7 separate regions of the Homo sapiens genome follow, and all the other regions are reported to be linked to region 6. Evidence: microRNA targets listed by miRTarBase, many of them from high-throughput screens and not tested one by one. Region 6 holds a microRNA gene; each other region holds the end of a gene's coding sequence.

Region 1 (4,330 bases), not on the chromosome of region 6:
CTATCTCAAAAAAATTAAAAAAAAAAAAAATTAAAAATTAAAAACTATGTAGGGACCATGTGGGATTCATACATGGACTGGCACCCTGTCCCTGTTTTGGGAATGTGAGTAGGACAGTGGTTCTCTACCCTCAAAATGACTGTTGGTCTGGTCTGTTCATGTTCAGAAGGTAGCCATAGGCTTCATCTTAGAGCTGGAACCCTTTGAATGAGTGGTAGGCTCCCTTTCCTGTTTGTATCTTTGGGTTCACATAAAGTATAGACCTACTTTAGAACTCAAATTGGTGGCGGAACTAGCTCCTTAAAACGCAGCTGGTTAGCACATTGCCTCATCCTAACAGGCCTCTGCTTCCCCTATGTCCCCTTCGCTTATATTAGCTGCCCTGTGCCCATTCTATCATGTCATTTCCTTTCAGCCTCCACCTCCTGGATGCCCTCCCAATGCTGCTCAGCTTGCAGTCATGCAGGGAGCCAACGTCCTCGTAACTCAGCGGAAGGGGAACTTCTTCATGGGTGGTTCAGATGGTGGCTACACCATCTGGTGAGGAACCAAGGCCACCTCTGTGCCGGGAAAGACATCACATACCTTCAGCACTTCTCACAATGTAACTGCTTTAGTCATATTAACCTGAAGTTGCAGTTTAGACACATGTTGTTGGGGTGTCTTTCTGGTGCCCAAACTTTCAGGCACTTTTCAAATTTAATAAGGAACCATGTAATGGTAGCAGTACCTCCCTAAAGCATTTTGAGGTAGGGGAGGTATCCATTCATAAAATGAATGTGGGTGAAGCCGCCCTAAGGATTTTCCTTTAATTTCTCTGGAGTAATACTGTACCATACTGGTCTTTGCTTTTAGTAATAAAACATCAAATTAGGTTTGGAGGGAACTTTGATCTTCCTAAGAATTAAAGTTGCCAAATTATTCTGATTGGTCTTTAATCTCCTTTAAGTCTTTGATATATATTACTTGTTATAAATGGAACGCATTAGTTGTCTGCCTTTTCCTTTCCATCCCTTGCCCCACCCATCCCATCTCCAACCCTAGTCTTCCATTTCCTCCCGCCAGTCTCCATTGAATCAATGGTGCAGGACAGAAAGCCAGTCAGACTAATTTCCTTCTTTCCTCGCACTTCTCCCCACTCGTCATCTTTTAACTAGTGTTTCACAAGGATCCTCTGAAACCCTCTCTGTGCCCCAAGTACAGATGCCATTACTTCTGCTTTCGTATCTCCTCAGGCAAAAGTGGAGGGTGCCTTATGGGCCCTCCTCATAGGTTGTCTCTGCATACACGAACCTAACCCAAATTTGCTTTGGTGCCAGAAAAACTGAGCTATGTTTGAACAAAGATGTCGTGCAAACTGTACTGTGAACAACAGTTGGTTTAAAATATGAGGGGCAAGGAGGAGGATGCATTTCAAAAGCTTGATTGATGTGTTCAGAGCTAAATTAAGAGGAGTTTTCAGATCAAAAACTGGTTACCATTTTTTGTCAGAGTGTCTGATGCGGCCACTCATTCGGCTCCCCAGAATTCCTAGACTGGGTTAATAGGGTCATATTGTGAATGTCTCACTACAAAATGACTTGAGTCCAGTGAAATCTCATTAGGGTTTAAGAATATTTCAGGGATCCTTAATGTTTTGATTTTTGTTTTCTGAAATTGGATTTTATTTTATTTTATCTTATAATTTCAGTTCATCTAAATTGTGTGTTCTGTACATGTGATGTTTGACTGTACCATTGACTGTTATGGAAGTTCAGCGTTGTATGTCTCTCTCTACACTGTGGTGCACTTAACTTGTGGAATTTTTATACTAAAAATGTAGAATAAAGACTATTTTGAAGATTTGAATAAAGTGATGAAGTTGCATTACACCTCACTGCAAGGATTCTTTACTTAGCTTGTTTTTAGATTTCTTCTATATATATTTTATTTATATCCCATCTAGAATTCAGCTAGGTGCTGCTGCTGCTCTGTTTCCTTTGATGACGCTTTGAAATAAAGGCAGGAGTACAAGCCTAAGACTTGATCATTTCATGAATTCCATTCCAGATGTTCAACTTTTCATCATTTTACTCCAACCTCTTACAAATTTTGGAATTTCGGACCTAAACTTAGAAATGAGGGAACTATTGATTCTCCTAACTTGCTCTAAAGTTTGGCTTGAAGAAAAGGTTCTGGTATAGCAATTTGTATACGTTGAGGATGACCTTTAGTTTCTCCAATGTTCTATGTGGAGAAATACTGAAAACTCATAGAATCTAGGTTGCCAAGATAGATTCCTCAGCTCTTTTATTTATTTTTTGAGACAGGGTCTCCCTCTGTCACCCGGGCTGGAGTGCAGTGGCAGTGTCTGCTCACTGCAACCTCCACCTCCCGGGTTCAAGTGATTCTCCTGTCTCAGCCTCCTGAGTAGCTGGGATTACAGGCACCTGCTACAACACCTGGTTCATTTCTGTACTTTTAGTAGAGACGGCTTCACTGCGTTGGCCACGCTGGTCTCAAACTCCTGACCTCAAGTGATCTGTCTGCCTCAGCCTCCCAAAGTATTGGGATAACAGGCAGTGAGTCACTGCACCCAGCCAGATTCCTCAGCTCTTGATCTTAACTTGGTTGGGTTTGAGCTTGGACAACAGAGGCAATACATTAAGACTTCAAAGGAGATCTAGCTTTAATTCCAAAGTGAACAATATCTGATGAGCTAATAATTTATACCAAAATGTGCCTTTTAAACACAACTTATCTTGAGACTAAAATCCAAGAAGCTTCTTGGCTTGATTCTGAGGATACACTGGGAAAGGTGGTAGGTTGATTTTTTCTGGTTCCTTCTGTATATATGTAGAAGGGATTCTGGGAAATTCTGGCCCTTGCCAGGATGGAGGCTTGAACCAACTCATCTCCCAGGGTACTTTTTTTTTTTTTTTTTTTTTTGAGACGGAGTCTCACTCTGTTGCCCAGGCTGGAGTATAGTGGTGCAATCTCAGCTCACTGCAAGCTCCGCCTCCTGGGTTCAAGCCATTCTCCTGCCTCAGCCTCCCAAGCAGCTGGGACTATGGGCGCCCGCCACCACGCCCAGCTATTTTTTTTATATATTTTTAGTAGAGACGGGGTTTCACCGTGTTAGCCAGGATGGTCTCGATCTCCTAACCTTGTGATCCGCCTGCCTCGGCCTCCCAAAGTGCTGGGATCACAGGCGTGAGCCACCGAACCCGGCCCTCCCAGGGTATGTTTCTAATGATGTTCCCCTGGAACAAGCTTTCCTGCACCATCTTTGTCTCAAATCCCTGAGATAGTTCTGCAAACTTCTAGAACTTTCCTAGGGTTCTTATTGCTTGGAAGAGAACATATGTAAAGGCGTTAAATAGGGAAAAGAAAATGTCAAAAATGTTTAAGCAAAAATAAGTCAAAATGTAGTTACTTCTTGCACATGAGAATCTGATTTCTGTAGCAATGAAAATTTTTAATTTGAATAAAAATCACGTAAGCATGAGGTTGTTGGGGAACACGGAAAGGAAGGGCTCAGATTAGGGGGTGTAGCACATTTATCAGGAGGTAAGATCTCCATAGTCTCCTACCCCTCCTGGCCTGGCCTTTTACTGTGGTATCCAGCCTCTGGGAAGACCTTGTATGGACAGTATCTCCACTGGGGCTATCACTAGGTGACCAGGTAGGGGACAGAGTAGAGCAGCCAATGACCTTAACTCAAAATCTTTTCTCTCCCTTCAACCTGTGAAAAAAGATGACTGGGCACATACTCAGATGTCCCCTGGCATAGCCACATCTTGTTGGCCAGTCACAAACACCAGCTCTAGTAAGAGGGCCTGGTTAAAGATATCATAAACAGCTTTCTCCATGTCCCTGGTCCCTGGAGTCAGTGATGTCGGCATTTGGGACTGCGACCTGGCTGGAGCTTGGATTTGCCCACATCAATCAATGCTTCTCCCTGGCTTCAGAGAAAACTTTCCCATAATAAGCAGTCAACGTGTTAGCGATGGAGCCAGGAATAAGCTCCTTGGGGCCTGGGAGTCATTAGATGAAATATTCCTCTTTCTCGCTGCCCTTGGCCAAGTCACTCTCCATCTGGACGATGGCACTGGGCTCACCTTCTGTAGGTTCATAGGTGACGTAGCTGCCTTTGTTCTTGTACAGGTAAAAGAAGATCAAGATCACGACCGAGAGCAGGGTGAGGAAGACAACGGTGATAACAACTTGGAAAGGAGAGGGAAAATGTAGAGATGTTTCAGGATTGAGGATGTCTCAGTAGTTCCTGGAGTCATCTGATTTAGTCACTGTTTTCGTAAAGATCCTCTTGTTTTCATTAACTAGTGTCCAC
Region 2 (4,000 bases), not on the chromosome of region 6:
GCCTGCAGGTGAGACGCACCCGGTTCTCATAGGCCCTTGAGCCAGGGGAAGCAGTAGGAGGGAATTGAGTTGAGGTGAGGACTGAGGCTGTTGCCACACAAACTGTGCTCAGTTTCTGCAGGTGAGACGGTGGCAGAGATGCCTGTTTTTGCCAATGTCAGACATTTACCTACTTAGTGACACCTGATTCAGGTGACTGTGACAATGTTTTCAGTCCTTTACCAACCTGCGGGGAGAGACAAGAACCCAGAAACAGGCTCTGTTGGGGAGAATACGGTGAAGTGTTCCTGATGATTGAGTTCCTGGCGTCCAGGTGCTTGTCGCATTGTCCTCGTGTTCACGAAGGTGGATGGTGCTTGTTTTATAGCTAAGGAAACACATTTGGAAGGTCAGTCATTGTCCAGGGTACCTGCCTAGACAATCACAGTGCTGGGACCCCTGCCTGGCACCCTCTGGCTCTGAGCCTCGCACTCCTGACCGCAGCTCAGTCCCACCCACCTGCTCAGCAAGGCGTCCCCAGCAAGGCACCCAGAACCCGCATGTGTAGAGAGACTCCTCGGCAGGGCTGATGGAGCGACAGGTCGGGGTTTCTCTAACAAGCACTTTCCTGGAAACTTCATTTTAACATGTTCCCATCTCCCTCAGAAAAAGGGCATCGAGAAGAACCTGGGCATCGGCAAAGTCTCCTCTTTTGAGGAGAAGATGATCTCGGATGCCATCCCCGAGCTGAAGGCCTCCATCAAGAAGGGGGAAGATTTCGTGAAGACCCTGAAGTGAGCCGCTGTGACGGGTGGCCAGTTTCCTTAATTTATGAAGGCATCATGTCACTGCAAAGCCGTTGCAGATAAACTTTGTATTTTAATTTGCTTTGGTGATGATTACTGTATTGACATCATCATGCCTTCCAAATTGTGGGTGGCTCTGTGGGCGCATCAATAAAAGCCGTCCTTGATTTTATTTTTCAAGGTCCCTTCTGTAAATGCTGTGCTTTCTTCCCTGTGAGAGCCAACTTTAGAGTGTCTGCTACCTCTTCATTACCAATCAGAATTAGATGATGTTTAACTGTTAGACTGAAGCGTGACGCTTTCATCAGTAGCTTCAAGAAAGTCTAAATTGTTAATTTATGGAATTGGACACAGTATTCAGTTTACCCGTACATGCTCCTCCCGCCCCTCCTGTTGGCACCCTTGCATCGCCCAGGCCTGATTCCTCCTGGGGGTAGTTCACCCCCACGGGTTCATAGTTCAGCGGCGAATGCCAGGCAGCTGTTTTCTGGCTGAGCAAACAGCACCTTTCTCATTGAGCTTCCTCTACTGACCTCTGTCCCCCTTGGGATTTCATCTTCTGACCGAACCCTGATGTTCAGTGGCAGAGACAGCCCATAGCCAGAACTGTGGGTAGACCAGGGTTGGGGTGTGCGGTTTGGGACAGCCCAAACCCCAGCCGCTGTGTCAAGGCCTAGGACGCCATGCTGCCATCAAAAGGGGGTTCCAGGTTTCCATCAGTGGCCTAAAGAAGGGACTTCTTGTTGTACTGAGGAGTGCGGAATTAAAGAGATTTGACTCCCTTTAGTATTGGGGGCAGTCCGTTCCCCAGACACTGTGGCCTCTGAAGTGGAAACTGAAAGCTGCATACCTGGGAAAGAACTTTCTAGGAATAGGCAATGGCCTTCAGTGGAAGAGGGAGGGCTGGAGGTGTGCCCAGTACTTGGATGTTCATCTGTCCACAACAGCTTTTTGTTTTTTTAAAAAAGCTAAAATGGAAATGGATTTTATCATAAAGGATGACATCGTTTTCTTCTACAATTAATACATGTTCATTGTATAAAACCCAAAAAGCAGCTAAAAAATAAAGCGGGAAAGGAACTACTGGTAATACTTGTCCTCTCTTGCATATTTCATAGGTTGAGAGAATGAAGCCTGCTCTGCAGGTTATCTGCTACTGTAACAATCCCAGCCCTCTCCACTCTGGTGGCTTTTAGGCTATTTCTGTTCCTATCTCCCGACGCTGGGGGTTGACAGGACTCAGCTGGGTGGTTACATGCCCACAGCTCCCACTGCAGTCACTGGAGGCTTGGCTGGACTGGAGCACGCGAGGCTGGTGTTTGGGAGATGCCCGGACAGCTGGCCTTTTCCCCGAGGTCTTGGGCCTCTCATTCTTCACAACGCATCTACAGCAAGGTCCATATGTTTGTTGAATGACTCAGTTCCCACAAGCAAAAGCAGAAGCTGCCAGGCTCTAAGGCTTGGGCTGAGAACTGGCCCAGCTTCGCTTGCGCTGCATTCTCTAGGTTAGAGTAAGTTACAAGGCCCCCAATGACATGGGCAGGAACCACACAAGGGTGTGGCTGCGGGAGACCTGACTCTGATGGCCATTTATGGAGATGAGCTGCCCCCCACTTCTTTCACTGTGTGTATTTGCCCTTGTCACTTTTCTAAATTTTTCTTTAGAGACAGGGTCTCTGTCGCACAGGCTGGAGTGCAGTGGTGTGATCATGGCTCACTGCAGCCTCCAACCCCTGGGCTCAAGCGATCCTCCCACCTCAGCCTCCCCAGTAGCTGGGACTATGGGTGCCTGCCACCACGCCCGGCTAATTTTATAATTTTTTGTAGAGACCGGGGTGGGGGTGACCGGGCGCGGTGGCTCACGCCTGTAATCCCAGCACTTTGGGAGGCCGAGGCAGGCAGATCACGAGGTCAGGAGATCGAGACCATCCTGGCTAACACGGTGAAACCCCTTCTCTACTAAAAATACAAAAAATTAGCTGGGCGTGGTGGCGGGTGCCTATAGTCCCACCTCCTCAGGAGGCTGAGGCAGGAGAATGGCATGAACCTGGGGGGCGAAGCTTGCAGTGAGCCAAGATTGCACCACTGCACTCCAGCCTGGGCGACAGAGCCAGACTCCGTCTCAAAAAAAAAAAAAAAAACAAGATATCAGGGTGGGAGGACTTGCTCTGTTGCCCAGGCTGGTCCTCCTGGCCTCAATCAATCCTCCCACCTCGGCCTCCCAAAGTGTTGGGATTACACGCATGAGCCACTGTGCCCTGCCATTCTTTTCACAGCTGGATAACCTTGAGGGTGGATAATTCGGTGTTTTTGTTTTTCACTGCTGTAGAGAGCAGAACTCTGAGCGTGGTACTTTAGCATTGTTTCCTCCTGGTGGTTCTATATGCAGAGCACTATGCTGGCTGTATTTGGGGTACATTTGCCATTTTATGGGATCCTTGCAACAACCCTGACAGGACCTGGGACTCAAGCTAAGTCAGGTTGTGTCTTGGTTGAGGGTGGTCACTACCTCTCTCCATAAACCAGGGGCTACCCCTTAAGAACCTCCCAGAGAGTTCACTCAGGATACTCCCACTAAGGTGGGAGGACTGCTTGAGCCCAGGAGCTTGAGGTTGCTGTGAGCTGTGACTGTGCCACTACACTCCAGCCTGGGAGACAGAGAGAGACCTGTCCCAAAAAAAAAAAAAAAAAAAAAAAAAAGCGCATTTCTGGTTCCATCTCAGAAATTCAGCTCTAGCATCCTAAAGGGAGGACCTGGAATGTAGAATATCCTAGATTCTTTCAGATGATGATGAAGGGGCCTGGAGATACTGGCCGTCCCTGGGCTATTCACCCTCTAGCTCCTGCCTTCCAGGGCTAAAGACGAGTCAGGTACTGAGAATCCACAAGACAAACACAGAGGAAGTACCGTGGGACTCCAGAGGAGGGCAAGGTTACTTCATGTCTTGGCAGAGCATCAAGGAGGACTTCCCCTATCAAGATCTCTAGGAGGAGGGAAAAGGAGGAGGAGGAGATGGCATACGCTCTGGCTCTGCAGGCTGGGCAGGATTTCAACCAGCAGGGAGGGTGGGATGGGCGTCATAGGCAGCTGCCGGAGCAGACAGGCTGAAGAGCTTGTGGATGGCAGGAACAGGGCGTCCCAGGAGCTGAGCAGGATGGTGACACGGTGGCCAAGGCTGCTCACACTCCACCAAGGACGGGTTGGCAGGGGGGTC
Region 3 (4,393 bases), not on the chromosome of region 6:
GTACTTAATGCAATGTTTCAAACTGTGTTTTGTACATTCTCGGTCCATCTTTGATGATGGTTTACTTTGAGAAATCATCTAAATTTGTTGCTTTTTAAATTAAAGGAAACAACAATCCAGAAAATGGAAAGGATGAAAAAAATGTAAGTAACAGAAAGGGGCAACAGAAATTCATTTCTCTATAGGGAATTGTATTGGATTACAGTATATATAGAATGTGCATGTGTGTTTCAAACCTTAAAGGTCTCTCAATCAGGTGTGGAATTTCCTTCAGGACTCCACTGGATAATAAATCCACCTACAGTTATGTGTTTGTGAGATGAGTCACTGTTTTAGTTTCCAACAAGCGATTTAAAACTTGTTGGAATTGTTAATGGAATTAACTGCAGAGAGAATACAAAGATATTTTTGGTTGGTAACTAATCAAGAGTATTATCTATTTTTGATAACTGATTTATCAAAATATTAAATAATATATATAGATGGATGGTTTGGAGACATTTTCAGTGTTGTGAAAATATCACTGGTGTTTTTCGGCAAGTTATTGATGAGATACTAAAAATGATGTTTTTGTCTAGTACAAATGGTGTGATTTTTCTAAAGAGCAGTTCAAAGGAAATATGAAATGAAATTGCATATAAGATGATTATGCAGCCTACTACTATAGAAAATTATAATATTATTTAGAAATGCAAAAAGTACTTAACTTACACTTCAAGAATATGACTCATAATCGACTCCTCTTTGTCTTCCCTCTGGTCATACTTAAGTTTATTCATAGTAACTGTACTTATAGATAAGAAAAATATTCAAATTTATTTTAGGCTAAAAAGCATAATTTCAACAACTAAAATGCTATGCTTTATTATGAATTATTGATTTACTTAATATATTATTTATTATATTTCAGGTTTGAAGAAACTGCAGAGTTACTGAAATGTCCAAATCACTACTTGTAGGATTTTCTACATGAACTTTTTTCTAGGACTTTGGTTACTATACATATTGTATATTTTAAGAATTCTTTATACAATTTTAATATACTGCAATACTGCAGTTTTTGACAATTTGGATTCCATTTGGTATATGAATTTTTGCATTCATTATTGAATAACTCTTTTAATATTTTTGAGCAATGATTATACTGCTTTACCTTGTGTCACTTTTTTTTTTTTTAGGAAAAACTCATGTTCCAGTATATTTCTCTTACAGAGTGAAGTCATTACAGCACTGTATTTCTGTGTTGACATTTGTTGGCAGTGTGCTAAGTAATGTTTTTTAAAGCACAGGCTTGAGGACTATGGTTTACATCCTGTTGGAAACATTCCAAATGGGACTTGTGTATTATACCCAGGAGGCTCTCATATATACCATCTTGGCATCTGTACTGATGAATAAGTTATAATGAACAGTTAAAAATGCTCATTGAAAATTAAATAAAACAAAAAGGCAGTTATTTCATGCTTGGTCAAAAACATCAATACCTTTCCAATTAACACTGAGAAATTAAGGTTAAGATTCTCCTTTTGTACTGGGAAACAGGCTGGAGGACTATGGTCCTCAAGTTTAGACCAAGAGGACTATGGTCTCAAGGTTCACCATGAGAAATGTGTTGAACATTTTAGTATGCTCTATTGTATAATTTTTTTGGAGGGGGGGATGGAGTTTCGCTGTTGTTGCCCAGGCTGGAGTGCAATAGCACGATCTTGGCTCACCGCAACCTCTGCCTACCGGGTTCAAGTGATTCTTGTGCCTCAGCCTCCTGAGTAGCTGGGATTATAGGCATGCACCACCATGCCCAGCTAATTTTGTATTTTTATTAGAGACAGGGTTTCTCCGTGTTGGTCAGGCTGGTCTCAAACTCCTGACCTCAGGTGATCTGCCTGTCTTGGCCTCCGGCGTAACACTTTTTAAGACCAGTGTAACAGAAAGAGAATGTAGCCATTCTAGCCACCGTTAAAAGATACACAGTGAGGTGTTGTGTTTTGTTTTTTTAATGATGAAAAGTTACACATTTTTTGGAGAGAAAAGTCTTAGCTGAAGGTAAATCAATGGAAAAATGAAATTTATTTTTAATATTACTACTATATGAATTATCTTTTTTTAAACTTGTAGATAAAAGTGTTCCAGTAATCAGAAAATCCTCAAGAAAATTGACTTCATTATTTGGAAGGAAAATTAGTATTTTTTTTAATATTATATGGACCATCTGATTATATTTTATTTATTCATCTATTTATGGTATGTATGTATAATTCTATATTACACTGTCAAATATAAAATATTGTTATATGAGTAGAAATCACTTAAATTTTTTTTGTGTTTGTGAATTTGAAACAGTGTAAGAAATCACTTTTAAGAAAACATTTTTAGAATTCCTTTGTTTTTTTTTTTTTTCTTTTTGAAACAGGGTCTCACTCTATTGCCCAGGCTGGAGTGCACTGGCGTGATCTCGGCTCACTGCACCTTCTGCCTACCGAGTTCAAGCGATTCTTGTGCTTCAGCCTCCTGAGTAGCTGGGACTATAGGCCTGTACCGTCATGCCTGGCTAATTTTTGTATTTTTGTAGAGACAGGGTTTCACCATGTTGCCCAGTCTGTTCTCAAACTCGTGAGCTAAAGCTACTCGCCCACCTGGATGTCCCAAAGTGCTAGATTCCATGGGTGAGTCACCATGCTTGGCCACATTTTTAGTATTCTAATAAACAGTTGGTCATCAGAACTTTAAAATGGTAGCCTACAGAAACATACAATTTTGAATTTAACAGAGTTTCAGTAAATATTTCCAGAATTAATGAAGCATGTTAGCTTTAATTTTTTCAATTGTGAGAGAAGTACATTTATAAAAATTAAGAGGTTAAGAGGTTATAGTTATAAGGGAAAAAACTTCTGTATCGATTAACTCCTAAAATATCAGTACCAGCATGGAATTATAGCACCACCTTGTGGTTAACATGCCAGTATTTTACCTTTTGTTAAAACAAGTGATTTCCCATCAAACAGGATAATATTTTTTCCCTTTTGAAAAATTCAATTTTAAAAAGAAACATTTTTGAAGTTTTCTTATGGAAGATAGAAAAAAAGTTAAGTCTCTTTCTACCCTTTCTTTTTTTCTTTATATAGTGCAGATATACACACAGAGAAGGGACTTAAAACATTTCTAATCTCCTAGTTTATATACAGTGTGCAAAATATAAGTAAGTATATATTGAAAATATAAAATATTTCATATATGTTATCAGGTGGAAATTTAGAATCCAAATTTTCTTAAACTTTAATAACTTGTCTAACAACTCTCTAATAGGGACTAAAAATCAACTCAATATATCATACATTTACACTTACAAAGAGTCTTTATCTAGACAACATAATTTTTGGAAAAATAAAGCAAATTCAACTTTATTGGAGTTATTGGACAGATCAGCAAATTGTTATTTTAAAAAGTTTTCTTGTTTAGGCAATTTGGTAAGTGGTTTCTAGTTATAAACTAGCCACTGTTGATTAACTTGAGAAGGTGAAGCAGGGGAGTTCTGAAGAGATTACCTAGAGCTACATAACCCTAAGTTAAGTAAAATTTTCACTTTCATTCTTTTCATTCTCTCATAAACTGGTTGAAAAAACACTGTACTACCAACAAAGGTGTCAGTTGCTTGTGCTGCCCTGTCTATGTTATGCTCTGAATAGGTCTCGGTAAAGATTATATGGAAATACTATAAAGAATACATAAGGTAAAATACTAGTCAGAAAGGGTTCAGAAGAAGTTAGCATCAACTGTATGAAAATTCTAGGTAAAGCTAAGTACTATTGAGTTGGAAAAAAGTAATTCTATCATGTTTGCTTGTTTTCCTCTACTGTTTTTAATGTGATGTTGTAATATATTTTAAAAATAAAACTTGAAAACGTTGGGACTTTGTTTCATGCCATTCATTACTCATAACTTTATATAATTGATACACTCTTCAGGAAGCATAAAAATTAATATAACCTTCTCAATTTTATAAACTACAACACTTTTTGAGCTCAAATAACATTGTAACTTTGATTTTTACTTTTTAACAGTCCCCAGGTTTGTCTCCTTTCTTTGAAACTGAAGGCATCAAACTGATCAGCGTGGAAGGAAGTGATGTTTATCTTAAGTCCTAAAGAGTGAACAGAATATAGCCAGGGAAGATGGTTTACGCAAAAGGACTAGCATAAACAAAGGCTTGAAAGGAAGAGCATTTGAAAGAAATTCACTAGGGCTAGCATACTGAGTGTGCTCTGTGTGTGTGTGTGTGTGTATGTGTGTGTGTGTGGCTAGAGGTCAGTTGACACAGGCCCAAGGGGCAGCTTGTATCTTATTTACTGAACCATTTAAGCAGCAGAATATGATAACCAGATCTGAGTTTTTGAAG
Region 4 (4,165 bases), not on the chromosome of region 6:
TCCTCAGCAAGCTCCAAGAGGAGATGAAGAGGCTAGCTGAGGAAAGGGTGAGTGCCACCCTAGCGGGAGGGCTGCCGGGCCACGGCCATTCCTGTGGCACCTGTGGAGGGACAGCAGACCCCAGGACCCGTGCCTGAGCTGACACCTTGGAAATGCTTGGATCCTCCTTCCAAAATCAGATACAGGCTTTTCTTTGAGCTTCGACATGTGTGATAGTTTTATAAATCACTTCAGTTTTGGTTCTGTTGTTAGAGAGCTGGCAGGCCAGCCTGTTGGTGGACCATGAAGGTCACAGTCTTGGTGGGCCACCTGAGTCCCATGTCCTCCCTGGGTGTTTGGAGGTAGGTCAGTGCACCTGCCAGGGTTGAATCTGTAGGGCTTGGTCCTGATGAAGCCTCCTAAAGCCACCTTGGGAACCCCACTCAAAGAGGGGCCTGTCAGGCTGGCAGTGGTGTCTTCTGTCTTCAGGCATCGTCTGCCTGGCCACGGCGTGACCTGCCCACCTGGGCCTTCTGGGTGGGAGCTTTCTTAAGTGTGGCAGTCCCCTGGCCTGGGTGAGAGCCCCAGGAGGTATCTGCTGCCGCCCAGGCCAGCAGGTCCCTTGCTGCTCCCTGGGGTGGGGCTTGGCCTCCTGGAGCCAGTGGGACTGCCTGGTTTGCCCCTGGTCGGAAGAGGGGCTGTGGGGCTCAAGGGCAGCAGGTGCAGGACATAGTGCTCCTGGCTGGGCCTGGGGCAAGCAAAAGCTGGGCAAGGGAGGAACACCCAATGGGGAGGCCTGGCCTGTCCCTGTAACTGCACCCAAAATTCTTCACTTCTTGGTACATGTCCTGATTGCCAGGGAGGCTGCACATGTTGTACTCTGATGGCAATGCAGGGGGCCTCTGCAATCTCAGGCTGGCCTGCCCCAGGCCTTCCCTGCTCCTCCTAGCCTGGCATCACAAGCACTGGTGCCGTTGGGGCTCCAGGGCCTCCTGGCATGATCTGCTGGGCTCTCCCTCCACCTTGTGTCTTCCCGAGCCTCTGCCAAGCCCACCTCACTGGTACCCCTGACCTTTGTTGTTCTTTCAGGAGGAGACTCGAAAGAAGCCCAAGATGTCCATTGTGGCGTCCGCCCAGCCTGGCGGTGAGCCCCTGTGCACCGTGGACGTGTGAGGGAGGTGGCACGGGCCAGGGCGCGGGGGCCGCCAGCCGCACTTCTGAGGAGACCAGCAGTCATGCATCGTGCACCACAGTGTCAGGCCTCCAACCCACGCTCCTTCCCTGTGGCCAACCTGTGGGCCCGGCCTTAGGGTGGAGGCTTTAGTGTACAGGGACAGCCATGGCCACACAGCACACATGTGGAGCAGCGGCTCTCCCTGGAAAGCTCCAGGCCTGAATGGATGGACTCAGCGACTGCACCAGTGGCAGCTGGTGACTGTGGACAGTGGTGGACCCTGCTTCTGTGCACCTGCTGCAGGCTCTTTTTATGAAGGCTTTCATGAATTTTAGTATGTAATACGCACTGACGACACATGATGCTTGGATGACAGATGAGAGGGGATGGCTGAGTCCTGTGGCTGGCCCGTGATGCCAGGTGGCCCATGTGCCCAGGGCGCCTGCAGGGCTGCTACAGGGACCTGGTCAGGAGGTGCACATGGTGCCCTGCCCTCACCCACCCTCTGTGTTTCCCCTTCTTTGAAAAGGTAGAAGAGAAAGGAATATTTTAAACCTTTTTGGCTTAAACAGAATTTTAGCATCAGAACTAGCTTTCTGGGATTGGAGGCAAACCATCAAGGTGGTCCCTCTCCAGTCTGGACACGATGCCAGCAAGGATGACGTCCTGCCACCTCCTGGAGTTACCCTGGCCTCCTAGGGTCCCTTTTTCTGATGAAGTCTTAATTCCCTAAAAGCGCCTCTTTGGACACTGAGGCCCTCTCTGCCTTTCCTGGCCTCCGGCAACAGTTTTTTACAAAGATTTTTTGCAGTCGAGTCCATATGTCCACCCATTGATTTTTAAAGCTTTTGTGATATTTTAGCATTTTGAAAGACTTTCACAGTGAGAGTAGAAGGTAGATTTGGAATCATGCATTTTAGCAAGTGGACTTGTTGAAACAGGAAGCAAGGGCCTTCAGTGTAGCCCATTCTTGATCCAGAGCTGTTGCCTGTGACAGCGGTTTCTCTGGATGTCAAAGGCAGCTGCCTGGTGCCCAGCTTGCTTCTCGACTGGTGGCCCCTATGGGTGGGTGTGCGATGGAAATGTGTTCCTGCCGGAGTCTGAGGCACCAGGGTGTGCTCAAAGGCTGGCCCTGGTGGTGGACTGGCACCTGTGCAGAGTGCCGTGTGCTTGTGGTGCGCCATCTGAAGCAAGAGTCCAGCGTTCTGCCGTGTCTGTCCCCCACCATGCCCCCTACAGGCGGTACTGATGGCGCTTTTTTTTTTTTTTCTGTCAGGAAAACAATGTTGGCCTGTGGGCCGCCCACAACATATCCTTCCCTCACTACCTGTGTGACCAAGGTTGGCTTCTGTTGACCTTTAAAAAAGAAACCCTCAACTCAAATTGCTATAATTAGACACTTGCTTCTGTCTTGCCTCCTGTCTGCAGCTGTGAATAGTCATTTGACTGTGACTGTTGCCCTTAGCCAGCCAGATGCGCCTGTGAACCAAAGCTTCGTGCACATGTGTTCCCCTAAAGGTTGGGGAGCCTCGCTGTGTCTTGCTGTTCCCAGGCACCACCACAGCAGGTGCTGCCATACTCTTGTGGTCTCTGTGCGCCCCCCCCCCCCCCCCACCCGTCTGCCAAGCATGGGTATGAATCGTGCACACAGCCATGCTTCAAGGCCGGGGCAGGGGAGCCTGTGCTGATGCCATCCAGGGCACTGGGCTGTGCCTGGAAGGCGAGCCTTGATTGTCTGAACACATAAAGCAAACTGTCCAGAAGGGAATGGCTGATGTCTTTATTCTGAGGGTGAGAGGCTGGCACCCTGTGGACCCTTGACTGGCCAGATCCCCTCCTGGGGCCTCCCTGCAGGCTGGACCCTGCCTTTGTAACAGCTGAGCAGCACCCCAGCATGGCCCCTTCCTTGGTTGATGCCCTCTCTGCTGGGCTGAGGGCCAGGCTGGCCACAGAGGGGCCAACTCTGCCCAGTGTTCTCCACCCCATGCCCCCAGCTGGTGCAGTTCCCAGACCTCTCTCTGCCTCTCCTCAAGTTTAAGTATCAAATCGAACATTCTTTTTTAAAGTAAGCTCTGCCCTGACTCCCCCAGCCATGCAGAGAGGCTTGCAGAGCTGCCTAGGCCTAGTTTGGCCCTTTCCCTGGCACCCAGGCCCTGTGTTCAGACCCCTGGCTCTCATCACAGAAACACCCTTTGTTGAGCAGTTGTTTATTCTGGCCCTCACAGCCTTGGCTAGTCCACAAAGGCCCTGGGGATGGGCAACAGGCTACAGGAACCCACCTGTCTTCCTGGTCAGGGCCCCTGGCCCCTAGCAGCAGGCCAATCCTGGTGGGGCACAGGGTTCTGTGCCCTTTGGCTGCCTACCTCTGAATATCCTGGCCAGCAAGCCATGCCTTCCCCGCCCCTGGGGCCCTGGGAGCCCTTCAGCTCCTGTCCCCATAATGGGTCCTGGGCCTAGGATGAGGGGAAGGTCCCAGTTTCTTGTAGGGTGTTATCTGGGGGTCCTGGTGTGGGTTGAGCTGGAGGGCTGTGGGGCCCCAAGACCCCTGTGCCATTGGGGTGCTCCACCCTCTCAAACAGGATGAGCATCTCACAGTGCGGGGTCTGCGGGAACAGGTCCACTGCCACAGCCTTGACCGGCCGGAAGGGAATGCCCTTCACCCGGTTAGATGGGGCTCTGCAGAGGCTGTGGGGGGAAAAGGGGGGCGCTAAGGTCAGCCGATAGGCTAATCAGGGGCTCCTGTGGGAGCTGGGGGCTTGGTAGCAGGCCTAGCCCCCACCCAGGCCCCTGCAGACACTCACTCCACAAAGTTGCCCATGGCTGCCCGGGGGTTGCATGAGACGTACAGCAGCCGCCTGAGGTTCTTAGCTCTCCGGATGGCCAGGATCACCTTGGAATCTGAGGAGGCAAACACCAGCTGGGTCCCCACAGCCAGAGAGTGCATAACATGGTGAGCCACCCCATGTGTCCTCGTTCCCGTGCCACCTCCTTAAGCAAAAGCCACTCACGCAA
Region 5 (4,393 bases), not on the chromosome of region 6:
CTGTAGCCTTCACCTCCCAGACTCAAGCAGTCTTACCACCTCAGCCTCCTGAGTAGCTAGGGCTACAGGCATGTGCCACCACACCCAGCTTTTTAAAATTTTTGGTAGAGACAGGGTCTCACTATGTTGCCAGGGCTAGTCCCAAACTCCTGGGCTCGTGCGATCCTCCCACCTTGGCCTCTCAAAGTGTTGGGATGCTTTTTGATGCAGAATATTGATTTATAAAATACTGTATCTTTACTGTCCCTTCAGAGTTCAGCTAAAGAAACGTGCTTTTAGGTTTTAAAAACAGTCCCGATAATTGCATCCTCCAGTGGTCCTACTTAAACTGAAAACAAGGTATTGTCTTCTTTTTCACAGCAAGACCACACAACACAGAGGTGTTGGATGAAAACAGCAAGCCCTTTTCAATGCAGCAGTCCATAGAATGCCTCTGTCAGAATCAAAGACTAAGCTTAAGAGTTCCTCGCATATATCGTTGTGCACAGGATCAACATGATGGTGACTGGGAAAAAATTACTTCAAGTAACATGCTTAGCTTTCCCTCCTTAATGTGAAAAATCAAGGGCTTACTGACATAGGAACAACAGAAATGCTCCTGGAACTTCAAGTTGCTGAATTATAAGTTTATTTTTTATCAATAAATATTTTTATACTTACATTGAGTGATGTGTTTAACAACAAATTGTGACAGAGCTGAGTGCTCCTATCTTACAGGGTCAATGAACTACTTATTAAGCCTTACTGGTAGCACTGAATTTAGCAGTTCTGAGAACATGTGAAACTATGTTAAAACTGAAGGCACTATATATTTTTACATAAAAGCTTGAACATACAGATGAATTATAACCTATGTGAAGAAATCTTAGATATAAAACTAACTTTTCAAAGATACAAAAGAAATTAAACAGGTTTCCTGAAATTTTAGTTCTTGGTCTGTTCACCTCTGTGGGGAAAATTCTTAGTTCCAGTGATAACTGTTCTAGTTACTACTTTTAAGTATGTAAATACTAGAAAGGTAGTACTAGTGACATCATCACGTGTATTGTTATCTATGGGGCAAATGTGTGGTGCCCAGAATAAAATATACCTCATGCCTAGGGTAGGGACATCCTTTCCAGCTCAAACGTGGGTAGGGATGTGGGAGAATAAGAATGTGGGAGAACCAAGAGAAAAAGTGGGGCTGGGAGAGTGGAGTTCCCGTAGGGCATAGGCCTGTGAAGTAACACTGGGGCAGATATGTATGTTATATACAACTATTTTTTTAAAAAACTTATATCCATGTTGGGAGTAGATGGGTATATAACAGTTTGGAAATACTATCTTTGGAGAATGTATTTTTGTATTTATAAATCAACTTTTAAAAACTGTCTCATTCAAAAGGGAATAAAGACCTGTGTTATCAATGTGTCATTTTCTTCTTTCCTCCATAACTGTACCTTGAAACCTTACTGCTGACCTGCAGAAAATGTGCCGCGTTATGTACCTGGCTCATCTTCAACACACTAACCATGAACACTAATAGCCATTAGGGGACATGGCTACAGATACTACATTGGAAAGTTGTCTTTAATCACACAGGTGTTAAACTCAATATAAATTTACCTAAAAACAATTGCTATACCTAAAAGGAGTTCTGGGTACTAAGGGTAGAAGCCTCACTGGCTACAGTTTTTTAATAGTACAAAAGTCAAGAAATAACACAATAGTGACTATAACCTGTATTCAAATCCCTACTCTGTCACTACTTGATCTGGGCTGATATGGTATGGCTCTGTGTCCTCACCCAAATCTAACCTTGAATTGTAGCAATCCCCACGTGTCAAGGGTGGGACCAGGTGGAGGTAACTGGATCATGGGGGCGGTTTCCTCCATGCTGTTCCTGTGATAGTGAGCCGGTCTCATGAGATCTGAAGGTTTTATAAGCGTCTGGCATTTCCACTGCTGGCAGTCATTTTCATCCTGCCGCCCTGTGAAAAAGGTGCCTGCTTCTCCTTTTTCTGCCATGATTGTGTAAGTGTCCTGAGGCCTCACCAGCAATGCGGAACTGAGTCCATTAAACCTCTTTCCTTTATAATAATTACCCAGTTTGGGGTATTTCTTCGTAGCAGTGTGAGAACAGACCATAAACCTCCATTTTCTCATCTGTTAAATGGAGATAACAGTCCTGGCTTAACAGGGCTTTTTGAGTTAAGTGATATATTCCACGTAACCTGCTTAGCATAAGAACTGGCACTAGAAACAGAACATTTTAGATTATGGAATAGAACTTAGGGGAAAATAGCAAAGTCTCTGATCATCTTGAACTACTCAATTGGGACTTATCCCTGAATTAAACCTTTCTAGTAGCTGAAGCACAAGAAAATAAACTTGGAAAGAAAAAACCTAAGGCCAGTCATGCACTGCCCTACTTCCCTTTCTTCTCTATTGCAGGTTAACTATGGCCTGTAGGCAGTTTTTCTTCTCTTTTTTTTTTTTTGAGACAGTCTTGTTCTGTCACCCAGGCTGGAGTGCAGTGGCGCGATCTTGGCTCACTGCAACCTCTGCCTCCCAGGTTCAAGCGATTCTCCTGCCTCAGCCTCCTGAGGTGGGATTAAAGGCACTTGCCACCACACCTGGCTAATTTTCTTTTCTTTTTTTTTTTTTTTTTTTGCGATGGAGTCTCACTCTCATCATCCAGGCTGAACTGCAGTGGTGCAATCTCGGCTCACTGCAACTTCCGCCTCCCAGGTTCAAGCGATTCTCCTGCCTCAGCCTCCCAAGTAGCTGGGATTACAGGCATCCGCCGTTACACCCAGCTAAGTTTTTGTATTTTTAGTAGAGACGGCGTTTTACCATGTTGGCCAGGCTGGTCTCAAACTCCTGACATCGAGTGATCCACCCGCCTCGTCCTCCCAAAATGCTAGGATTACAGGCATGAGCCACCGCACCTAGCCGGCAAACTTTTTTAAATGGTTGGCGGGGGTGGGGGAAATCAAATGAGTAATGTTTTGTGACACATCAAAATTATAATGATGTGCTGCATAACTTTTGGTCAACAATGGCCAAATATACGATGATGATCCCGTAAGATTACAATGGAGCTGAAAAATTCCTATTGCCTGGGGACACAGCCATGGTAACATCATAGTGAAATTACTTTATGTAGCCTAAGTATATAGTGTTTATAAAAGTCTACAGTAGTGCACAGTAATATCATGGCCTTCACATTCACTAACCACTTACTGACTCACCCAGAGCCAGCTTCCAGTCCTGCCAACTTGTTCATGGTAAATGTCCTAAATAGGTGTACCATTTTATATCTTATATATATCTATATATATATTTTTACTGTACCTTTTCTATGTTTAGATATGTTTAGATACACAAATACTTAGCACTGTGTTACAACCGCCTACAGTAATCAGTACAGTAATATGCCATACAGGTTTGTAGGTTAGGAGCAATAGGCTATCCCATATAGGATACCATAGGGTATACCATCTAGGTTTGTGTAACTACATCATGATTTTCACACAATGATGAAATTGCCAAGTGACATGTCTCAGAACATATCCCTGTCATTAAGTGACATATGACTATATATGAAACTTAACAAATCAGGCCTTGTTGAAACACAGTCATGTTGATTTGTTTACATATTGTATATGGCTCCTTACACACTATCAACGGCAGAGTTGTGTACTATAGTTGCAATACAGACCATAGCCAACAAAGTCTAAAATGTTCTAGCACTTCACAGAAAAGGTTTTTTGACTCCTACTCTACTGTTTCAGTGTCACTGACCCATTTTACCTGGACCAAAGACTACTCAAGTCTATTTTCCTCCAACTGACACAAGTTTCTGCCTCAGTGTATGGAGGTTTTCCTCAGTAATAGGAAACTGGAAAAATTAGTCAACATTTATTGAGTGCCTAAATGACTACCTATTTAGTATACCTGCTGATTTACTTGGCAGGCTTTTCTCACTATACTGCAAGCTCCTTGAAGGCAGAGATAATTTACTTGAGTGGAACCTGGCACAACGTAAGTGCTTTAGAAATTGAATAAGCCAAGTAAAATGTTTTAAGGCAACCCTATCCCAAAATATTCCTGAAGATATTAATTTAATCATTACTAATCTCTGTGATTAGCAAGGGAAGTAGTCAGTCTGGCACACCAAATTTTATTAATAATACTTATTTTAATCTGTTCCCTTTAGTATGTCTTTATACAGTTCCCCTCGTGTATATACACTGATATAACTACAATTTAAAAGCCACTAATTAATCTGTTTTTTATTTTGTAAGTAACAAGATATAGACATTTGAATGCCAATGTCTTATTCTGGAGAGACACTGGAGCTGAAGTTCAACAATGATCACACTTATTACCTGGCAATAAAAACACAACC
Region 6 (4,393 bases):
GAGGGGCGTGTGAAGCCGGGAGGTAGGAAGGGGGCGAGGCCGCCCCCAGCCTCCCTAGTGCCTGGGCTTGGAAATTGACGAGGCGGTGGAGCGTCCGCGTCCCCGCCCCCACCCCGGAAAGCCCGCTCGGGAAACTGACTCGCTGCGTGACCCCGATCTCAATGCCGCGCGCGGAGCAGGCCGGCCGCGCCCGCCGCTCCACGTGCGCCCGAGCCCCGCTGGCATGGGCGGCGGCGCCTGCGGGGGCCGGGCCCCGGGGATCCCGGACTAGCCGGGAACCACCGTCCCCAGAGAGTTACCGCCGCCCCCTAAAGTTGTCAGCTCCCTCCCCCCGAGAAGCAGGCAGCCCTGGCGCGTTGGCTTTAGCTTCTGCAGGACGGGGGCAAAAAAACTAGGTTCCGGGGTGCGGAGCGGGGTGTCTGTGCCCGAGACAACACCAAGTTAGGAAAAAGAAGTTAGAAAAAAAAAGAAAAAGGCATTTTGATTTGGGGGTGGGGGGAGTGGCGTTTCTGGTTTCTCTTTGCTTCCAATCCCCACCAAGCGGAGCGTTGGAATGCGCCGCTTATGTCCTCTGAGGACACATCCATATTTATAATTTATTTTTAGGAGAAGTTGTGAAAAAGGGAGGGGGGTTAAAATGAGGAGAAAAGGTGCGTGGGGGAGTGGCCTTTCCAGAACCTAGAGGCTAATTAAGCTATTAAAATGGAAATCATTTCCCCCAACTTGGGCGCGCAGCAAATTTGACTTTAATGAGAGACGATTAAGGACACAAATAACCAAACTTTATTTAGCTGGAGATGGGGTGGGGGGAACTGTACGAGGCACCTCGGACACCCGATTTATCCGCTGCTAAGGGACGTTTGGGGCACCCCTCGTGTTGTCCGGGAAGCTTTTAGGCCTGTTTGCTGGGCGAGATTGGTGATTGCTCCGGGAGGGAAGAGACACCCCGGGATCAAGCGATCCTCTTGCCCTCAGCCATGGTGTGGCAAATGTCCCCTCCTCCCACAGCGACCCCCTGGCATTTTGGTGAGATGAACCGCCGCCCTGAGGGAACACCCAGTAACGATTCCTTCAGTGATCCCGGTTCTCCAAACTCTTGCCTCAAAGGCGGCCTGCCCCGGTGCTGTCAGCCGTGAATGGGGACTCACTTCTTGGGAAAAGAGGCTTTTGGAGGCTGTGGTCTCAGAATCGGGGTTTTGAGGGCGAGATGAGTTTATGTTTTATCCAACTGGCCCTCAAAGTCCCGCTTTTGGGGTCATTCTGGACAGCGAGGGACTCAGGCCCCGGCAGTCTCGGGAGGGTGAGGGCAGAGAGCTACCACCCCCAGGGAGCGCGTCCAAAACCCGGCTGGCGGGGGGGCGGGGAAAGAGGGGGAGGTTTGCTACTTTCCATAAAACTAAAAGGTCCCTTCGAGGGCGGTATTCTTATAAGTGTGTGTTCTCAGTTTGCCGAACCTACTGTGTTTTCCAAGGGCTTCTCTCCTTGGGAGGCCGAAAAACGATACAAGGAGGAGAAAGTACATTCCCCCTGACCACCCCCACAGTGGTTTAAGGGACAGTATTGGATTGGAAAGGAATTAGTAGGATGTCAATTGTGGCAAAGTGTTTGAAGCCCCCAAATAAGGCGCTCCTGAAATGATGAATTGTAACGACATTAGATTTGTCTTTACGTTTGCTAAATTAGGAGAAACCAGCTGTTTGCTTCCACCTGGAATTGCAACATTTCTTTGCAACTCTTTGCTGTTGAAGGCGTTCTTTTTGTTCTGTTTTGTTTTGTTTGTTTGTTTGTTTGTTTTTTGGGGACAGAATCTCGCTCTGTCCAGGCTCTGACCAGGCTGGAGTGCAGTGGCGCGATCTTGGCTCACTGCAACCTCTGCTTCCCGGGTTCAGGCGATTCTCCTGCCTCAGCCTCCCGAGTAGCTGGGATTACAGGCGCCCGCCACCACGCCCGGCTAATTTTTTTGTATTTTTAGTAGAGACGGGGTTTCACCGTGTTAGCCAGGATGGTCTCGATCTCCTGACCTCGTGATCCGCCCACCTCAGCCTCCCAAAGTGCTGGGATTACAGGCATGAGCCACTGCACCCAGCCAGGCGTTTTATAGAAGGCTGGATAATACGTTCAGGGGAAGTCTCTAAAGCAAGGGTAGTGTGTATAAATCCCCGTCGCAGAACATTAACCTTCAGTTGTGTGTACACACACACACACACACACCCTATATAGTTGTAACCTATATAGACTTTCACACATCCTAAGTTATTTGCAAGTCTAGATTTAAATTAAGTCTACATAGCAGGGAATAGAAAAGTGAGCTGTACCTGGAAAAAACCTTTGAACACAGCGTTCTTGATACAAGATTTAGGATTTGAAAGACATGGCACATGTACACACAGATGACATTTGTGCTGCCTTGGCAAAAACAGTTCTTTACTTCCAGAGTTCTTTCTCTTTAGTATGGGACACGATGAAACAGCACAATTTTCAGGAGTCCACAATTCCAGCGAGGCGCGTGGATGGGAAATTGTCACGTTGTGAATTGTGTTTGTGCTTTGCTAAATCGCCACCCGGAGCTGACTGTCAAATCCTATTTGCTTTGCTAAATAAGGATATCTCATCAAATTAGCCTTTAATGATACTTCTACAAATAGGGTGTTTTACATGAATTAACGAGGCCGGAACACTGACTGTTTCTCCAAGATACTGAGCTATAATGGAGGCGACGAAGCCGAATGTTAAAATTACTGAATTGTTAAGTGTGCAAAATCAGACAGAATTTAGTGCTAAATGTGAAACAATTTCTGCTTTAATGGTGAGCATTCGCAACAGCACAAGCATTACTTATATTCAGCCGTCTGAAACTGTGCATGTAATTATGAATACATTTAACAAACTTTAACCCCCCTCTGAGTCTGGAAACAGTCTAGTATGGTGAAGAGATTATAAATCAGCATTTTGCAGTGAGAAGTCATCATTAATTCAGCAAAGAATCACAGCTTCTTTTCAGATCCTTCCCACCACCCTCCTACACACCCCCCTCAACCAATAAGGAAAAAAAAAATTCAGCATGGAACTGCTGGATACACTGAATATATTTTGGCTTTTCTCTTTTTGCCTCTGTGTGAGAAACTTCATTAAGCAGTTGCTGTTCCCTCCCCACCCCCGCTAACCCCCAAAGAAGTGTGGATTTAAGAAAAAAAAAAACAAAAAACAAGCAACTTTGAATTTTGTTCTTAGCAATCCCCAAGCCATAGCTGATCTCAGAGAGGCAAAAAAGATGTTTCAATAGAAAAGAATACGGTATGGCCAGGAGTAAAATATTTAGAGGTGGTTCTGCAATGAATATGATACTTCCTTAAAAATAAAATATATGTTGGTGATTCAAACCAATGAAAGTTGGAAAAGTCCCTCCAAGGGAACACTCTCTCTGTTTCCCTTCCCAGCAACCCCCCAACTTAACGTTATGAACAGAAAGATGGAAATTCTTGCCAGATCAACTATAGCCTCCTAACGATCAGCTCACCCTCCTTTAATTTTGATTGTGGAGCAAATACAGCTATTTTAGCCATGAGGATAAAAATGAGTGCAGTGAAAAGTTAAGGCAAACTTGGTACTTAAAATCACTCACCAGAATAAAGTGCGTGTACAAACAAAACATTGCTGATCAGTTACTTTAAGCAGGCATTTTCTTTCTCGCCTGAGCACCCCAAACACAGAAAAATGTAGAGTTCTTTTTGCTTCTTGTATCTGGAGCAGGTGAAAATAAACCCTGACGCTCACAAACATGATATAAACAACATACTTTTCAGGCCTAGTAGCCAAGCCGACTTTTCAGGGAAAGAGATGGACGTTGAAAGAATTTAGGAGTGGACTTGGGGTTCCCTCCATCACCCCATGCCCAGCTGACCCCTTCTGCCCTTCTCATGACCTCTTTTCAAAGCAGCCAGTGTTCAGATGCTGCCTTTCCAGCGTCCCCAGTTGTAGGGGACATATGCACATATTTACCAAGCTTTAAAATAAGGTTTCTGATTTTATATCATCCGTCTGAGTTTACGGAACCACAAAGCAAACTTCTTTCTCCGTGTCCCTGAAATGCTGCCCCACTGCAGCAAAGGGGACTTCGCCTGGGCAGGGAGAGGAGTTAGTGGCTGGTTGCGCCTAAGGTTAGCTGTGCGGTGTGGTATGACAGTTTTCTCAGAGATGTGCAAAAATCTAGGCTCTCTTGCTGGAATCGTGTGAGATCAGTGCTGGGCCTGTTGGCATTGGCATTTGTGCCCAAGACAGCCCAGACCTCTGCCAGCCGAGGCCCAGATGTGGCCTCAGAGCCACTACTGGTGCCCAGACAAGTCCAGACAGGTGCCTGGGGGTCTTTCCTCCCGAGACGAAGCCTGCAGCAGTT
Region 7 (4,393 bases), not on the chromosome of region 6:
CAGAGGCAATCAGGGAGTACCCCACCCAGGGAGCCTCAGATGCCGAGTTTCCAGACGTGGACTTGGCATGAGTGCACTGGAAAGCAATGGACCACTCGGCACAGAGCAGCAGTCCCTCCAGGGCCTGAGCACGGGGGTGGTGAGCTGAGGCCCCAAGAGGCACAGTGCCCTGCTGTACACCTATCAGATGGGTGCCGGAGGGACCAAAATGTCAGAATGGACCACAGGCCTCAGGGCTGATTGGCTAGGGAGGGAGGCAGAAGAGGGGTGAGTCTAGGCAGCAGGTGCGCGGGCAGGGAGCCCACGGGTGCTTGGGGTACGGCAGAGTGACAGGCTCTCTTCTGTGCCTTGCAGGTGGCCTCAGCCCCGAGTCCAAGAAGATCCTGACACCCGCCCTCAAGAAGCGGGCCCGGGCTGGCCGTGGGGAGGCCACCAGGCAGGAGGAGAGCGCCGAGCGGAGCGAGCCCTCACAGCATGTGGTGCTCAGCCTGACTTTCAAGCGTTATGTCTTCGACACCCACAAGCGCATGGTTCAGTCTCCCTGAGTGTCCGGTGACCTCCCCCAGGGCCTCCTTGCCCAGCCCAGTCCAGGCTGCTGTGCCAAATCCCAACCAGCCACGCCTCAGCCTCTCCCAGTCTCTCCCTGCAGTCCTGCAGCAGCAGCCCCCACCCCCAAGCTTGGTGCTGAGCCCTGGTGAGGAGCTGAGGGGGATGGGTTGCTGGGGCCAGGAGGGTCTCTCCTCCAGCCCCTGCACACTCCCACCCAGGACAGCCCCCAGCCCAACTAGGAAAGGGCCATGGGCAGAGGGCTGGTAGCCAGTATCTTCCACTGCCCCATCTGTTGGCCACCTGCAGGCCAGTCTCAACCCTCCCCCAGGTGGGCAGGCACTTGATGGCTACAAATAAATGTCCCGTGGCCCCAGCCCACTCTACTGGTGTCTCTCTCTCTGTGACTTCACTAGGTCCGCCGCCCTCCCCAGCTGTGTTCCAAGGGGAATCTCAGAAATCCCAAGAGTTCCTGCCCAGGTCGGGGCCAGGGAAGGGACCCAAACTCAGAGTCTGTAGGCTGTGGGAGTCTGCAGAGTGTCTGCGCTTCTCAACCCCACTAGGTGGCTCCTGGGGCGCTCTGGGCCTTCAGGGAGAATGGGGATTCTCTGGGCAGCTGGGTCCAGGGAAGGTACCCACAGGGAAGTTGGGGAATAGCAGGGTGCCTGGCCAGAGCATCAGGCAGAGCAGGTGGAGGCTTGTTCCTCCACCCCAACACGAGGAGTCCCTCAGCCCCTGCCCTCAAGTTTGAGAACCACATACTTCCCAGAAAGTGGAGGCTAGCATGGTGAGGGCACCCTGCAGAGCCATCTGCCATCCCCTGCACCCACAGACCACCCTGCCTTGTAGCCCCAGGCTGTGGGATACTCAGGAAGGGGTGAATGGTGGAGTCAACAGACTGAGGGGAAATCAAAGCTTTTAGAGACATTTGCAGGATGAACAGATGTTCAAACGTTCCTTTATTTGGTCTCCAGACAGACGCAGAGGCCTCCCTTTTATCCCAGTAATCGGTGCATTATGCTTTAATTTGCAAATGGCATTAAAAATATTAACAGGGGCAGGTTTCGATCAAATGACTTGGGCCTGTTAAGCCCCAGAGCCGTGTGTGTGTGTGTGTGTGTGTGTCCCGTGTGCACGTGGTGGGTGGGGAACAGGCAGTTAATTAAATACACCAACAGCAGAGCAAAGCCCCCGAGCTGCAAGGATACCAGCGATGGCGACTGGCCCAGCCACCCTTCGTCAACCTTGGCCCAGACCCAGGCAGCAGGGCTGGAGCAGCAGTCAAGGGCAACAGCTGAGAGCCATGGGGAAGTGGGGTTCCCAGTTCAGTCCCCTGAGGGGATTGGCCCTGGAGGAACGTGAGAGAGAGTGTGGCCCCGGTGAGCGTGGCCTCCGCGGCTGCTGCAGGCTGCGGGTGCCAGGGCGGCTTGTCTGCACTGTGAATCAGGACAGCCCTCTGCCTAGGAGCCGACTCCCCCTCTACTGCCGCTGCCTGAGCAGACACTTCCTGGGACTGCAGTGGCCCCTCTCCCTGGGGCCTGACCCCACTGTGTGCTGTGCCCCGACCCCACTGTGTGCTGTGCCCCACGGCCTCCTCACCCTACCTGGCCCTGCAGACTGTTTCACCAGGAAGGCAGTGCCACTTCACTGAGGCCACTCCGCCCAGGAAACTGGCAGCAGCTTTGAGCCCACACCAGGCTCCCTGCTAGCCTGCTGGTCCCCCAGGGGAGGGCAGCCCAAGAAGGGAGCAGACCTCCAGGAGGGCTTCAGTCAGCACCGAGCTGGGCTCACAGCCCCCAGCCTGTCAGTCCCTGGGGGCAGGAGAGGCCCCTCTGAGCACTTGCCAGTGCTGTCCAGGCTGGTCACCTCCCAGCACAGATCTGGGAGCTGCTGGTGAGGGCCAGCACTGGGTCCGAACCCAGCTCCAAGGACTCACTTCTTAGGCGAGGAAACCTCCCTCCTCCTCAGTGTGGGGCTGAGCTGGGAGCCAGGCCACACCCTCCCTGACCGCTCCCTCCCCAGCCCCCTCAGAGTCCCTGCACATTGGGACAGAAAGCTCTGAGCTCAGCCCCAGGTCCTGGCCTGCATGGGCAGGGTGACCTTGGGTGTGTCACTGTCCCTTTCTAAATGAGGGGTGATGTGACCCAGTGGAACCACTGTGCCAAGCATGGGGTTCCATGGAAGCTGTCCATGGGAGCTTCCATGGGAGCCATGGGAGCTGGCTCTGGGGCCAGATCAGGTGTGGAGGAAAGATGAGCACACAGGGCGAATGTGGCTGCCGCCACCAGGGCACAGATTCAGGCCTCTCCCTGCCTGCGGTGTGAGCTTGGGCAAGTTCCCTAACCTCATGCCTCAGTGTCCCCATGTATAAAATGGAAGAAGAAAAGCAGCCATGCCAGAGGGCTGCCCTGGGGGTGGGAGACTTGCCAGGCACACTGCTGACCCCACATTACCTGCGGCCCTAGGGTGGGCCCCACACATCTCCCACTGAGAGGCAAAAGGCCCAGAACCCCTCAGGAAGTGACACCAGCCCCAAATAAGCCGTTTTTCCAGGAACTCTGTGCAGGCGTCCACCTCCACCCCACCTCTCACCTCCCTACTGGTCTGAAGACCGTGCTCCTCAAAGTCCCGGGAAGGAGGGGGCTCGGGTGGAGGAACTGAGGCACAGAGGCACAGAAGGGAGGAGGGGCAGCCCAGGGCGACTCCCAGGAGCCTCTGAGCGCCCTGAGTGTGTAATGAGGCGGACCTGCTCTGTGTGGCCTGAAAACGCCCAGCCGACTGCCCCAGGAGAGGCCTCTATCAGGCCCGGCATCGGTGGAAACCCGAGCGTCCATTAGTGGGGTCGGGCCAGGGCGCGCAGCCTTTGAAGGTGCAGCCTAGCCGGGACGGTGGGCAGGAGCTGGTGCCAGCACCCGCTTCTGGCTGAGGCCAAGGTGTGGGCATGCACGTCCCCTTCCCTGGCTCCCCCGTCCCCCAGGATGCCTTGGGCAACCCCAGGCCCGCGTGTTTTATGTAGGAGAGGGTTCCAGTGGGCCAAGCTCACTGCAGCCACCGACACAGGTAAACTCACCGAATCTGCTCATCTACCCACAGCAGTGATGTGGCAGCAGCATGCCGGTTTCCCAGGGGTGTGGGCAGGGCAGGGCTTGGCTGCCTGCAGCTGCCCCAGATAGAGCTGGAGTTTGAGTCCAGGCTCCAGGTTCTTCCAGAGTCCCTTGCCCACCAGTGCTTCAGGCGTGTCCTTGGAAAAGAGGTGCCCTCTGGGGTCCTCTGTGGGCTGATGGGTGGGGTGGGGCATGGGGCAGCAGTGCCCTGGGCCCCCTCACCTGCCTGCCCACATGGAGTGAGGTCATGGACCGACATCCTGCCATGGGCTGGGGCAGGAGGGGCAGCGGTGATTGGCAGGCCCCCGACCAGCAGGGCTAATGCACAAACGAAGAGATAAGGCTTATCTGGAAATGTCCCTGGAATCGAGACTCTGATGGAAACAGGCTTCTGGGTTAATATATTTTCAATAGATAACGTCTCGTAAACGGGAAGCCCTGGGGGCCTGGGGCAGGAGAAGGGGCAGCTTCCGTGCTCCCAGGCCTCCTGCCCTGGCCATGCATGTGCATGTGCGCACACGGGCTTTGGTGCACCAGGCATCTCCAAGCCTGTGCTGACGTCTGGGTGTGCATCTGTGCACATGGATCCGCGATGTCTCAGACGTGTCTGCATGTGCTCCGTGTGTGTTTTGGGAGGGTTGCGGTGTTTGTCAGTGTGTGTATCTCTTTGGGTGTGGGAGTGGGGTGAAGGAGGATCGAGTCCAGTGTACACAGGGTGGTGGCAAGTTCCCTAACCTCATGTC

Evidence for each region. Region 6 holds the annotated microRNA hsa-miR-193b-3p (AACUGGCCCUCAAAGUCCCGCU, at 1,227-1,248, shown strand). A microRNA usually pairs through its seed, bases 2 to 8, with sites in the 3' UTR of a target mRNA and lowers its output. Matches are read on the target gene's strand: a 7mer-m8 pairs with bases 2 to 8, a 7mer-A1 pairs with bases 2 to 7 and ends in A, and an 8mer does both.
Region 1: miRTarBase lists DAZAP2 as a target of hsa-miR-193b-3p. The part of its 3' UTR that is shown has no 7-base or 8-base seed match.
Region 2: miRTarBase lists MDH2 as a target of hsa-miR-193b-3p. Seed matches in the 3' UTR shown: 7mer-m8 at 793-799.
Region 3: miRTarBase lists CEP44 as a target of hsa-miR-193b-3p. Seed matches in the 3' UTR shown: 7mer-A1 at 2,956-2,962.
Region 4: the mRNA of TRMT2A is a reported target of hsa-miR-193b-3p. Seed matches in the 3' UTR shown: 7mer-m8 at 2,974-2,980.
Region 5: miRTarBase lists BORA as a target of hsa-miR-193b-3p. The part of its 3' UTR that is shown has no 7-base or 8-base seed match.
Region 7: the mRNA of EEFSEC is a reported target of hsa-miR-193b-3p. Seed matches in the 3' UTR shown: 7mer-A1 at 816-822 and 7mer-m8 at 855-861.

Annotation. Positions count from the first base shown.
Region 1 is chr12:51,241,915-51,246,244 of GRCh38, forward strand. It overlaps DAZAP2 (DAZ associated protein 2), which reads left to right. Exons shown (of 4, transcript NM_014764.4): 4 at 416-2,019. The coding sequence ends at 544. SMAGP (small cell adhesion glycoprotein) reads right to left here. Exons shown (of 4, transcript NM_001031628.2): 4 at 2,644-4,205. The coding sequence ends at 4,027. Among named protein-coding and RNA genes, the nearest start is that of DAZAP2, 5.3 kb to the left of the region's middle.
Region 2 is chr7:76,065,634-76,069,633 of GRCh38, forward strand. MDH2 (malate dehydrogenase 2) reads left to right here. Exons shown (of 9, transcript NM_005918.4): 9 at 646-1,875. The coding sequence ends at 777. Among named protein-coding and RNA genes, the nearest start is that of MDH2, 20 kb to the left of the region's middle.
Region 3 is chr4:174,316,425-174,320,817 of GRCh38, forward strand. It overlaps CEP44 (centrosomal protein 44), which reads left to right. Exons shown (of 12, transcript NM_001040157.3): 11 at 106-143; 12 at 911-3,904. The coding sequence ends at 959. Among named protein-coding and RNA genes, the nearest start is that of CEP44, 35 kb to the left of the region's middle.
Region 4 is chr22:20,108,957-20,113,121 of GRCh38, forward strand. TRMT2A (tRNA methyltransferase 2A) reads right to left here. Exons shown (of 12, transcript NM_022727.6): 10 at 4,162-4,165; 11 at 3,955-4,051; 12 at 2,919-3,838. The coding sequence ends at 3,607. DGCR8 (DGCR8 microprocessor complex subunit) reads left to right here. Exons shown (of 14, transcript NM_022720.7): 13 at 1-47; 14 at 1,069-2,916. The coding sequence ends at 1,152. Among named protein-coding and RNA genes, the nearest start is that of MIR6816, 3.7 kb to the right of the region's middle. RefSeq lists an enhancer at 3,022-3,521.
Region 5 is chr13:72,754,791-72,759,183 of GRCh38, forward strand. BORA (BORA aurora kinase A activator) reads left to right here. Exons shown (of 12, transcript NM_024808.5): 12 at 361-1,406. The coding sequence ends at 426. It overlaps DIS3 (DIS3 exosome endoribonuclease and 3''-5'' exoribonuclease), which reads right to left. Exons shown (of 21, transcript NM_014953.5): 21 at 1-4,393. Among named protein-coding and RNA genes, the nearest start is that of DIS3, 25 kb to the right of the region's middle.
Region 6 is chr16:14,302,791-14,307,183 of GRCh38, forward strand. MIR193B (microRNA 193b) reads left to right here and starts at 1,177; the gene lies at 1,177-1,259. All of the region lies in intron 1 of MIR193BHG (MIR193b-365a host gene), which reads left to right. RefSeq lists silencers at 9-169, 75-314, 1,268-1,317 and enhancers at 3,680-4,365, 4,366-4,393.
Region 7 is chr3:128,407,715-128,412,107 of GRCh38, forward strand. It overlaps EEFSEC (eukaryotic elongation factor, selenocysteine-tRNA specific), which reads left to right. Exons shown (of 7, transcript NM_021937.5): 7 at 355-932. The coding sequence ends at 545. Among named protein-coding and RNA genes, the nearest start is that of DNAJB8-AS1, 54 kb to the right of the region's middle. RefSeq lists enhancers at 1-401, 1,583-2,231 and a cis regulatory region at 3,888-4,073.